Regions from separate parts of the Homo sapiens genome. Here all the other regions are reported to be linked to region 2. The links are microRNA targets in miRTarBase. Many come from high-throughput screens and were not tested one by one. Region 2 holds a microRNA gene; each other region holds the end of a gene's coding sequence.
Evidence for each region. Region 2 holds the annotated microRNA hsa-miR-1304-3p (UCUCACUGUAGCCUCGAACCCC, at 2,147-2,168, opposite strand). A microRNA usually pairs through its seed, bases 2 to 8, with sites in the 3' UTR of a target mRNA and lowers its output. Matches are read on the target gene's strand: a 7mer-m8 pairs with bases 2 to 8, a 7mer-A1 pairs with bases 2 to 7 and ends in A, and an 8mer does both.

Region 1: miRTarBase lists ZNF682 as a target of hsa-miR-1304-3p. Seed matches in the 3' UTR shown: 7mer-m8 at 2,529-2,535.
Region 3: miRTarBase lists IDS as a target of hsa-miR-1304-3p. Seed matches in the 3' UTR shown: 7mer-m8 at 4,167-4,173.

Annotation. Positions count from the first base shown.
Region 1 is chr19:20,002,618-20,006,868 of GRCh38, forward strand. ZNF682 (zinc finger protein 682) reads right to left here. Exons shown (of 4, transcript NM_033196.3): 4 at 1,801-4,251. The coding sequence ends at 3,388. It also overlaps the pseudogene BNIP3P12. Among named protein-coding and RNA genes, the nearest start is that of ZNF682, 35 kb to the right of the region's middle.
Region 2 is chr11:93,731,545-93,735,795 of GRCh38, forward strand. It overlaps MIR1304 (microRNA 1304), which reads right to left and starts at 2,220; the gene lies at 2,130-2,220. It overlaps TAF1D (TATA-box binding protein associated factor, RNA polymerase I subunit D), which reads right to left. Exons shown (of 6, transcript NM_024116.4): 6 at 4,023-4,251. It overlaps SNORA1 (small nucleolar RNA, H/ACA box 1), which reads right to left and starts at 589; the gene lies at 460-589. SNORA8 (small nucleolar RNA, H/ACA box 8) reads right to left here and starts at 955; the gene lies at 817-955. It also overlaps SNORD5, SNORA18, SNORA40 and SNORD6.
Region 3 is chrX:149,479,052-149,483,262 of GRCh38, reverse strand. It overlaps IDS (iduronate 2-sulfatase), which reads left to right. Exons shown (of 9, transcript NM_000202.8): 9 at 45-4,211. The coding sequence ends at 517. Among named protein-coding and RNA genes, the nearest start is that of IDS, 24 kb to the left of the region's middle.

The DNA.
Region 1 (4,251 bases), not on the chromosome of region 2:
AATATTAAATGGTGATGTCCTCACGGCAATTTTAATCTCCTGGAGCCACCAACTCACTCCAATTGGAACACTAATTATGGAGTGTGTATTACACATGGTAGTGCTTTTCTGTGTTTGTTCACTTCATTTATGACTAAACAACACCATGTCTGATGTAGAGACGTAAGAGTTGATAAAAAAAGAAACAAACACTACCATGACTGATGACATCTCCCTAGTGTTCACCTAAAGAAATTAACCCAATAAGATCAATAAACTCAATGTTAATTATAAAAATTAAAAGAACAACAAGGCCAGGCGCAATGGCTCACGCCTGTAATCCCAGCACTTTGGGAGGCTGAGGCGGGCGGATCACGAGGTCAGGAAATGGAGACCATCCTGGCTAACACGGTGAAACCCCGTCTCTACTAAAAATACAAAAGAATGAGCCGGGCGTGGTGGTGGGCGCCTGTAGTCCCAGCTACTCGGGAGGCTGAGGCAGGAGAATGGCGTGCACCCGGGAGGCGGAGCTTGCAGTGAGCCGAGATCGCACCACTGCACTCCAGCGTGGGCGACAGAGCAAGACTCCGTCTCAAAAAAAAAAAAAAAAAAAAAAAAAAAAAATTAAAAGAGCAACAAAGGAAAGATTGGCTTAGAGTTCTCCAATTGAAAAAAAATGTACTAAATAAAATGTTACAACATATTTACTATGAAATTACATGTTCAAATTATTTTGCAAGCACCATTAAATTTTGTAAAAATTATTCCAATAATTCCCGAGCAGATTATATAAAGAATACTTTATAAACTTTGGAACAAGAAAACTGGCCGGGCATGGTGGCTCATGCCTGTAATCCTAGCACTTTGGGAGGCTGAGGCGGGTGGATCACAAGGTCAGGAGATCGAGACCATCCAGGCTAACATGGTGAAACCCCGTCTCTACTAAAAATACAAAAAAATTAGCTGGGCGTGGTGGTGGGCACCTGTAGTCCCAGCTACTGGGGAGGCTGAGGCAGGAGAATGGCGTGAACCTGGGAGGTGGAGCTTGCAGTGAGCAGAGATTGCACCACTGCACTCCAGCCTGGGTGACAGAGCAAGACTCCGTCTCAAAAAAAAAAAAAAGAAAATTATGCATTAGGTCTACTATCAATACCAGGCAAGTAAAACCTAGATTTACTTAAGGAGATTCTGAACTAGGAACCACAAGATTTTGAAAAAATGAATTCAATACAAATGGGAAAAATAGATTTGCTTTGAAATTGTTTGAGGTTTCCAGTTTGGTAGTAACTTATCAACACTTTAAAAATTACCAGTTTGTTCTAACATATTTTCTTTCTTCTCAAAATAGGTACACATCCACATTCAAATACAATTACTTGCTTCATAATTCCCTTACACTTTATCTTTAGAGTAACATATTTGTATATTAAACTTTCATGTAAGTGAAAACTTAAAGAGTCTATGTGTGTCTGGAAGGCCACAGAGGTTGCATGTTCAAAGAAAAATGTGAGATAACATCTTCTACATACTCACTTAAGATTCAGAAATATATGGCTTTTGATTATATGCCTGTGTAATTTTCATAATAATCATCTTAATGACTCTATAATTAGAAGAAAAATAATAAAAATGTAACCTATGGAAACAATATTCTCCAACGTATTTGAAGTTTAAAGTCACTAAGGATAAGAATCACTAGAGATGCCATTCCACTATATTACTGAATAGTATGTTGTTACCGTCTGTTACCTAGAGACTTGAGTAAGGTAAAATAGGTTAATGTTGGTGGCAGGATAACACCTAATTCAATGCACAACTGTCTTAACACATTAAAAATAATTGTTTTATTGAAACTAAGTTCACACAGTCTAAGAAAAGCATTACAAAATCCACTATACTATCTAATGTGCAATTGGTAAAACAATTTACTAAAATTTGAATAATGCACAAGACTATTACTCTGAACATCTATCTCATGCAGCACTTACAAGTTTTATAAGTCAACCACAAAAGTTTCTCTGTGTACTTTCTTCACACACCTCATATTTCAGTGTCCTCAATCTTCTGTTGAAAAGTATGTAAATGACATCCTAATATAGAACTTCTCAAACCCCGAGCAGCAGAAATTGACCACATGCTTTCATACAGACACTAGGAATAAAGACACAGCATCAAGTAATTTGAGAGTTCAATTACATCAAAATTTGCCTTTGTAAAAATCTAAAATTCTTTCAATGCAAAAAGTGTACTTTGAATATAATTGTTTAAGTCTCAAAATATTAATCTCCTATTTCTGTTTAGGCTAACTAAATTATGTTAACCTTGAATTACTCTTTATAATCAATGCCCTGATTTAGAATAACATTGAAAGTGTTAGCGTCTTAGTGGTTTCTACTGTGAATCTTCTGATGTTCATTTAGACTTAATTTTTTATTAATTTTTTATATTTACTGCATCTGTTAAATGCTTTCATATAAACTAGCGTTCTTTCTTTTTTTTTGAGACAGAGTCTCTGTCGCCCAGGTTGGAGTTCAGTGGCGCGATCTCGGCTCACTGCAAGCTCCGCCTCTCGGGTTCACGCCATTCTCCTGCCTCAGCCTCTCCCAGTAGCTGGGACTACAGGCACCCGACAACATGCCCAGCTAATTTTTTGTATTTTTAGTAGAGACAGGGTTTCATCGTGGTCTCGATCTCCTGACCTCGTGATCCGCCTGCCTCGGCCTCCCAAAGTGCTGGGATTATAAGTGTGAGCCACCGCGCCCGGCCTTAAACTAGTGTTTTCTAAGGTGTACTTTTTAAACAATTTTTTTCATATTCATTACAGTTGTAGGGTTTCTTTCCAATGTAAATTATCTAAAATGGAATAAAATTTGAGCAACTGTTAGAGGGTTACCTTTCAGTATAAATTCTCCTATGTACAACAAAATCTGTAACATAAGTAAAAGTATTGCAACAATCTTTATATTTGTAATGTTTTTCTTCAGTATAAAAACTCTTGTGTACTCTAAGGCTTATATTTTTGAAGTCTTTCCATGTACAAATGTAATGTATCACTATCATTACACCTTGTGTACTCTAAGGCTTTTATTTGGTGACATCTTTCCACAGATAAATGTAATGTGTATCATTACACTTACATTGCTTTTATCTAGCACAAAACCTCTGATGAGTAAGTTCATAGTAGTTATTAAATGCTTTGCCACATTCTTTAAAATCAGAATTTTTCTCAGCATGAATTTTCTTCTGTGCAATAAGCTGTCAGCAATGGTTGAAGACTTTCCCCACATTCTTCACATTTGTAGTGTTTCTCTCCAGTATGAATTATCTTGTGATTTCAATGCCTTGAGCAAGATTTATGGAATTTGCCACATTCTTTACATTTGTAGGATTTCTCTTTAGTAAAAATTCTTACGTAGTAAGGTTTGAGCAGTGATTAAAAGCTTCCCCACATTTTTTATACTTGCAGGATTTCTCTCCTCTTTGAACTCTCTTATGTTCATTAAGATGTGAGCACCGTTTAAAAGCTTTGCCACATTCTTCACATTTATAGCGTTTGACGGCAGTATGAATTTTCTTATGTCTAGTAAGGTGTGAGCACCGATTAAAGGCTTTTCCACATTCTTCACAGTTGTAGGGTTTCTCTCCAGTATGAATTCTCTTATGTTCAGTAAGGATTGAGGACCAGTTAAAAGCTTTGCCACATTCTTCACATTTGTAGGGTTTCTCTCCAGTGTGAATTCTCTTGTGTTTAGTAAGGTATGAGAACCTCTTAAAGACTTTGTCACATTTTTCACATTTGTAGGGTTTCTCTCCGCTATGAATTACCTTATGTTCAGTAAGAATTGATGATGAGTTAAAAGCTTTGCCACATTCTTCACATTTATAGGGTTTCTCTCCCGTATGGGTTCTCTCATGTATAGTAAGTAGTGAGCAGTGGTTAAAGGCTTTCCCACATTCTTTACATTTGTAGGGTTTCTTTCCAGTGTGAATTGTCTTATGTTTGGTGAGATGTGAGTGCCGGTTAAACGCTCTGCCACAGTCTTCACATGTATAGGGTTTTTCTCCTGTATGAATTTTCTTATGTCTAACAAAGGGTGAACACCAGTGAAAGGCTTTTCCACATTCTTCACATTTGTAGGGTTTCTCACCAGTATGGATTCTCTTATGTTTAGTAAGACTCGAGCACCAGTTAAAAGCTTTGCCACATTCTTCACATTTGTATGGTTTCTCTCCAGTGTGAATTCTCTTATGTTTAGTAAGGTATGAGAACCA
Region 2 (4,251 bases):
TTGAACATTTCGCCCATCATCATAACATCGTTAATAATGAAGTTTAAACACATAATAACGTAAGCCTAGTCCTTTTTTTTACTCCTAAGTGGTGATAGATGTTGCAATAGCATTGCTAGATAAATAAATAACCTAAAATAACATTTGGAGAAAAGCTAGTATTCAACAAAATAACCTGCATGGCCTTTTAAGTAATGAATTAACTTACCAAGAATCTTTGGGATCTAATTTCTTCAACCAATTTACTTTAGGGTCCTAGAAGTTGAATTGTACAAAGTACAGTTACATTTTGACACCTGATCCAAGACACAGTAATGTATACCACATTACAATGTTTCAGTCAATATACAGCACATAAAAAAAGTGGTCCTATAAGAGCTGAAAATTCCTTATTAAATGTTATTTCTAATATTGAAAAGTCAACATTTTTCTCCTACATTTTTACTCATAAACATAGCAAAATGTTACAGGTCTCATTGTCACCACTGCAATATGCATACTGTGATGGAAGCATAACCTGTCTCAATTTAGCCACATTAACTATTTTTGGACACCATGATCAACAGTGCCCATTCTCTAGAATGAGGCATTGTAAAAGTCTTTAAAGCTTAGTAGTGTATTTGTACGAAGTTCTTGTTATGCTGGCAGTGCTACTGATAGAGGGAAACAAGCAGAATCAATAGAAACAGAGAATCTTACCTTTTTACTGTAGGTGGTGGGGATCTACCTGGTTCTCAATTTGACACCCTGGAAAAAAAAGCATTGCTTACTATTTTAGAGTATATCAAACTGAACACTCTGAGAAACCTACACAAATACTGTATCAGTAGAAATACCAGGTTTAACAAGCACAAAGCCAAGAAAACCAACGATGCCAGATACTGAATTTCTATAGCACTGACCTTTGAACACCCTAGCAGGTGTAAACTGCTGAGTGCAGATACCATGCAGTGCAATTATGACTGAACTGTACAACTCGTATTCCCAAATTTGCAATATTGCTGAGAAATGCTTTCACAAACCTCTCAAATTCCTTTAACAAGTACAATAATTTGAGCTTTTTTCCTAATTGTCACTGTAATAAGGAAGCTACATTAACTACATTTTAAGCTACAACTCTAGTCTTTGCCTAATCTTTGCCCAGTCTCTCTATAAAACTTAAAGATGGAATATATACATGTAACTTAACAGATCAGACAACAAACGTCAAGCTCATTGTTGCTCAAACTGCCAGTTACACAAAATTCTTTTTATGTAATTCATATCCCTATTGATTCAACATATCCACACAGGTTTACGTGACTTTAGGATGAAATATGTGTAACTGCCAGTTGAATAATGATGCAAAGAACACAGGTAGTTTCGTTTGGTAGGTATAGACATGCAGTCTCTTCATTTTCCTTCTCTATACAAATATATACATTGTAATATTTTTGCCAGTATCTTACTAATTCTGTGTTATACCTGAAATACTGGGATGGTGTAATTTCTATTTTTCATCTTTTGAGTCCTTGATTATTATAAGTTAAATATTTTACTTACCTCTCAACATGAATGAGTTCAAATCACATTCATTCCTATAGAAAGTACCAATTAAAGATTTAGAAAGGATACATTTCCAGTTATTAAAACTAAAACCCAAGTATAAATTTAAGATCCAGTTTATTATACAGCCATATCCAGCTCTGTCAGAATTAAGTTTTAGTTCATGCCCGTTATCATTCAGCAGTTGAACAGTTAAATTCATCATCTGAACTGTAATCATTATTTCCCAAAAGATTATACTGTCACCAATTAAAACTTACCTAAGCGATCACTCAAGAATGGTACAGATGTGTGGAGTATGCCAATACCTAAGGTAAAAAAGTAGATTATCTGGTTTTTCATAACGTTTAGCAACCGTCTTTTTCAAACTTTTAGCAACTGTCTTGTAATTCCTTCCCACAGATCTAACAATAGTCCTGTGAGTAAAGTAAAACCACAGAGTTACTCTATGAGGCGTTTCCAACGATGTGCAGGCTACAGGAAAAGCCCCATCGGGATAGACCTCAACCACTATTTACAAGGTTTTGATTTTTTTTTAAAGACACAGGATCTGCCATGTCTTTTAAAAATCGTGTGATTCTTGCTGAATCACTTGAGCCCAGGGGTTCGAGGCTACAGTGAGATGTGGCAGGATCACATCTCACTGTAGCCTCAAACCGCTGGGCTCAAGTGTTTCTCCTGCCTTAGCCTCCAGAGTAGCTGGGGACCACAGGCACCACTGTGTCCAGCTAGTATTTATACACATAAATAACAAAGTCTAACACTCCATAGGAAAGAAATTATGAGCAGAAACTGCAATATGCTCTTACAATATTGCCAACTGCAGAAACTTCCTACTACGTTAATCACAAAAACAATAATTTCACAATCACGTTGTGCTTAGGAGCCAGAGGAATGATAAATAAAAAGTAACATCAAGTAGCTCCTTTACATGAACCAAAGGAAAAAGATTTAAACTTAAGATTTAAGTTTAAAGTCTAACTGTTGTTATGAACTTCAGTATTGCAACAGAGGATGTTGTTTTCCCAATTCGAAGATTTCAGCAAATTTTAATTCTTGGCTCAAAATTAATTGTCATCCATTATAAAATACAGGAATATAATGTGCCTGTAAGTTACGACTTTGGCATTATATAACTTTTAATCAAACTCTACATCATTCAAATTTATGAATTCTTATGACCTGTGTAATCATCTTTTATTATACTATATTTTGCATTAAACCATAAAATCCTCTGCCTCATTTTAGATTGTGCATTAATTCAAAATAATGCTGTAGGCTTCAAGTAGGAAATCCAAAGTTCTGATTATTGCTACAAACTAACAAATTCAGGACCCTCTAATGCTTGCAACTAAAATGAATCTGACACATCACTATAAAATGTGTGAATCTAGGATTCTTCTTTTCAGAAATCAGTATAAATGGGAATTAAAAGCATGGTAGAAATGTCCCTGAATAAAATGAAACTTGCTCTGACAACATACTGTTTCCTACACATAAACAAATATGATGTGAAAACTCAAATTGAGACATACCTTTAACTCCAGACACCATGTTCTCAAGATAAAAGCCTTTAAAACAAAAAGCCATTGTGTATATCATCAACATGAAATTGGAATGCAAAATTAATACTGCTGAGGATTTCCCTCATATCCCATGCTGTTTATCTATTCTACAGGCCTGGAATCAACCTTTTTTTCTTAAGAGACAGGGTCTGTCTTTGTTACTCAGGCTGGAGTACAGTGGTGCCATCAAAGCTCAGTGCAGCCTCCAACTCTGCCTCAGCCTCCCCCCTTTCTGAGTAACTCCAACTACAGGCACATGCCCCAGTACCCAGCTAATTTTTAAATTTTTGTGGAGATGTGTTTCTTACTTTCTTGCCTAGGCTGGTCTTGAACTCCTGGTTTCAAGCAATACTCCCACCTTGGTGTGGGGATTGCAGGCTTGACCCATTGCACCTGGCCTGGAACCAACCTTTATGGCTATCAATACTCCCATCAATCAACTGTCTCAGGTATCATAATATCCCTTCTTATATGTATCAAAACTCATACTGAACAATGAGTTCTGGGTTGCAAAAGAGGATTTATTTTTTGCACCTATCTGTAAGTCTTTGTCCACGTTAAACAAAAACATACATAAGTGCAGTCCCAAAATGCACTACATAGCAGAGTAGTCAGCTCTATCGTGGTGATCAAAATAATGAACATCGGGGTAATGACTGGTTCTCCCCAGGTATACATGTTGAATAAATGTGTATGCCTTTTCTTGAACTAATAAAAAGTGAAAATGGTAGTTAAAAGTAGTATTAGGCCAGGTGCCATGGCTCACACCTATAATCCCAGCATTTTGGGAGGCCAAGGCAGGCGGATCGCCTGAGGTCAGGAGTTCGAGACCATGGTGAAAGCCTGTCTCTACTAAAAAAACAAAAACTAGCTGGGTGTGCTGGCTAACGCCTGTAATCCCAGCTACTAAGGAGGCTGAGGCAGAATCGCTTGAACCCGGGAGATGGAGGTTGCAGTAAGCCAAGACTGCGGCCATTGCACTACAGCCTGGGTGACAGATCGAGACTCTGTCTAAAAAAAATAGTATTAAAGATACTCTAAATTTGGAAAGGGAAATGAGGTTATTACAATACTAAGCATCTGACAGGTCACTTGTCATGGCTGAACAAAGCTGGGATAAAATTACAGCATTTCAAATCCC
Region 3 (4,211 bases), not on the chromosome of region 2:
CTTTTATAATGTAACCCATTCTGCTCTGTCGCTTCCTGTTTCAGGCAGGCAATCCATGGACCTTGTGGAACTTGTGTCTCTTTTTCCCACGCTGGCTGGACTTGCAGGACTGCAGGTTCCACCTCGCTGCCCCGTTCCTTCATTTCACGTTGAGCTGTGCAGAGAAGGCAAGAACCTTCTGAAGCATTTTCGATTCCGTGACTTGGAAGAGGATCCGTACCTCCCTGGTAATCCCCGTGAACTGATTGCCTATAGCCAGTATCCCCGGCCTTCAGACATCCCTCAGTGGAATTCTGACAAGCCGAGTTTAAAAGATATAAAGATCATGGGCTATTCCATACGCACCATAGACTATAGGTATACTGTGTGGGTTGGCTTCAATCCTGATGAATTTCTAGCTAACTTTTCTGACATCCATGCAGGGGAACTGTATTTTGTGGATTCTGACCCATTGCAGGATCACAATATGTATAATGATTCCCAAGGTGGAGATCTTTTCCAGTTGTTGATGCCTTGAGTTTTGCCAACCATGGATGGCAAATGTGATGTGCTCCCTTCCAGCTGGTGAGAGGAGGAGTTAGAGCTGGTCGTTTTGTGATTACCCATAATATTGGAAGCAGCCTGAGGGCTAGTTAATCCAAACATGCATCAACAATTTGGCCTGAGAATATGTAACAGCCAAACCTTTTCGTTTAGTCTTTATTAAAATTTATAATTGGTAATTGGACCAGTTTTTTTTTTAATTTCCCTCTTTTTAAAACAGTTACGGCTTATTTACTGAATAAATACAAAGCAAACAAACTCAAGTTATGTCATACCTTTGGATACGAAGACCATACATAATAACCAAACATAACATTATACACAAAGAATACTTTCATTATTTGTGGAATTTAGTGCATTTCAAAAAGTAATCATATATCAAACTAGGCACCACACTAAGTTCCTGATTATTTTGTTTATAATTTAATAATATATCTTATGAGCCCTATATATTCAAAATATTATGTTAACATGTAATCCATGTTTCTTTTTCAAATCTAAAGTTAAAAAAAAATAGCAGAAGCCAGTGTCTTAAAGTCTATCTTTTGTTTCTAAGACCATGGGATTTCATAATCTCAAGATAAAATATGTATGAAGTAATTAATGTAGAATTTTTACACCAAATAATAAATAATGCTTAATAAACTAGAGATATGAGATGTGTAGGAAATTTGGTTAAACTTTTTTCAGATACTTTCTGGCCCAAATAATAATTTGTTAGCAAATAATATGACCCTTGAACTCAATGGCCATCTATTAAAAGACTGTTGTTCACACTGGAAAACATTTAAAGATGTGACTATATCCATGGGTGGATTGAATCACTCAAAATATATTAGTATCCTTCTTTAGGGATGGTTGGTTACAGACATGTATTTATTCAGGAGGCAGAAAATATTCCATTTTAATTGCTTATTAAAGAAAACATTAAATTCTAAATTATTTTGAGGACTGTGAAGACTTTTCATTAGTGTAATATTAGGTCATTGTCAATCTCCCAGAATGTAGTTCTATATTCTCTAAATATGAAAGTATCCAGAAAGGCCAGTGGTAGTAAAAAGCTTAGTGTATATAATCTCAAAAGGGATGGAATATTTACAACTCATATTTATAACATGTTGAATCTTCTCAGTTATCAGTAGTCATCAGAAGTGTCAATAGCTTTCTAAATAAATATTAAATATCTACTGTCCTGTAGTGAAGGAGTAATTTTTAGTAATTTTCTCTTTACAAAGTCTCCAGTGTTTCCAGGTAAATATTTGTGAAACAAAATACAGCAAACTACATTGTTACTTCAGTGTATTGTTGCCAAAAATGACAAGATATTATATTAAAATCAGTAAATTTTAGACAGATTTTAAAAATTAATTAGCCTACAATAGAGGTTATATGGTAACACGGTGATCTTCTAAGCAGTTAAGTGACTGACTGTTCTGGCAACAACGACTTCTCCGTGACTGAAGGGCCCTGTTCATTTCCTGATCCTGAAGCTCGTCTCTCTTTTGAGCCTCCGCTTGCTTTGGTCGATGGTTTCCCTCAGCTTTTTCTTTGCTGTTCTTCATCCTCGTTGTTGCTGTCATCATGTTCACTGTGGCTTTTACAATACAGCCTGTAAATTCCTTATGACATAGTTCAGTGCATTTGGCTTTATTGCCTGCTCCACAGTTCTTTACCTTTACTTGGCTTAGAGAAACTGTATCTTTGTTGCTTCATATAACCTTTCCCCAACCCCACTAAGCTGGACATAACTTATTAGTGGTCCTCCCGTCACTTTATTTGTAGAAATCTCTCTTTCACATGAGCAGGGGTTCTTTCATGTGGTTTAGCTGACAGCAGAACTAGTGATTCTAGACATTTTGCATGGCCCTCATTCAGTGGCTCACAAACATGAGGGAGCATCAGAACTACTTGAGGGGCTTGTTAAAACCCAGTGCGTTAGAAGTCGGATGCGGTGGCTCACACCTGTAATCCCAGCACTTTGGGAGGCCCAGGCAGGCGGATCACTTGAGGTTAGGAGTTCAAGACCAGCCTGGCCAACATGGTGAAACCCCGTCTCTACTAAAAATACAAAAGTTAGCCGGGTGTGGTGGTGCATGCCTGTAATCCCAGCTTCTTGGGAGGCCAAGGCACAAGAATCGCTTGAACCAGGAGACGGAGGTTTCAGTGAATGAAGATCGTGCCATTGTATTCCAGCCTCGGCAACACAGCAGGACTGTGATTTTCTTTGGAGACTCCTAGATTTTCTGTGGTTTTGAACTGAATTTGTTGGATGTTGGCAAGTGCCTCTTATGAGCTGTTTCTTTATCCTGCATTTGCCCCACAAAGACTTATCTGGAGGTGAGCAAAGTATGTTTGGTAGTGAGGTCACAAAGGCAATCAGCCCCTTCCTCCCCACTCCCATTGCCATCTTCTCAGTCCTTCTCCCTTTCTTTCCAAGTAGTTTACCCACCCCTCCTCTTTCCTCCCCTGTCCCTAAAATAATCCACGTGTCTTCCTAAAATCTCTCTTTGATCCTGTCCTTTGATAACACCGTCAGTGCCTACTACTGGGTCTAGACAGACCTCTGTTGAGCAGTCAGAGTCTTCCCTGACTCCACAATGCCCCTTTCCTTGGCTGACCAGTATGACTACTGGTCCCCACCTTTCCCTTGCCTATCCCTACCTCCCTCCTACTAGGTTGTCCCATCCCTCTCTTCACCCATTCATTCATGACCATTTTTCACTACCAAGCTCCCCCCCTCCCGAAGGAGGCTGAGGTTTTTGTGACTCTCTAGACTCTATTGTGGGATGGAATGAACATTGCTAAAGAATCTTGTGTTCGCTTTACTTTAAAAAGGTATTTTTTTCCTAATTATAAAACTGATGTGTCAGTTACGGAAAAATTAGAAATGCAGCACAAATACATGAATATTTTACCACAAAATTGCCATATAATATCTTGTCTTTTTTGGGGGTGTGAATTTTTTGCATTGTTCTGGTCATATTCTTTATCATGTAATTTATGTTCTTTTTTACTAAGTATTATGTGTGGTTATTATAGATTTTCACAAAGATATATTGCTGGTAATATATTTTATTGTGTAGTCTTATAATTTACTTAACCTTCTTTCAATTGTTAGAAATTTAGGCTATTTCCAGATTTTCAGTATTGTAAATAATGCTGTGATGACCAATTTTGTGAATAAAATGTTTTTATGTATTTCAGATTATTCCCTTAGGATAGTCTCTCAGTGCCAAGTTGTCAAAAACATCTCTATTTTGCTTATCTTCCTGCTCTCTTGCTGCCTTAGGGGGTAGTAAACTGAAACATAAAGTAAACATGCATACAAATAAAAAACATAAAACAAAAATAAGCAACCTGATGGTAATAGGTGAAAGTGGTAACCTGTTTTAACTTTGAATTCTTGCCGGGCGCGGTGGCTCACGCCTGTAATCCCAGCACTTTGGGAGGCTGAGGCGGGTGGATCACGAGGTCAGGAGTTCAAAACCAGCCTGGCCAAGATGGTGAAATCCCGTCTCTACTAAAAATACAAAAATTAGCCGGGCGTGGTGGCGGGCGCCTGTAATCCCAGCTACTTGGGAGGCTGAGGCAGAGAATTGCTTGAACCCAGGAGGCGGAGGTTGCAGTGAGCCAAGATCGCGCCACTGCACTCCAGCCTGGGTGACAGA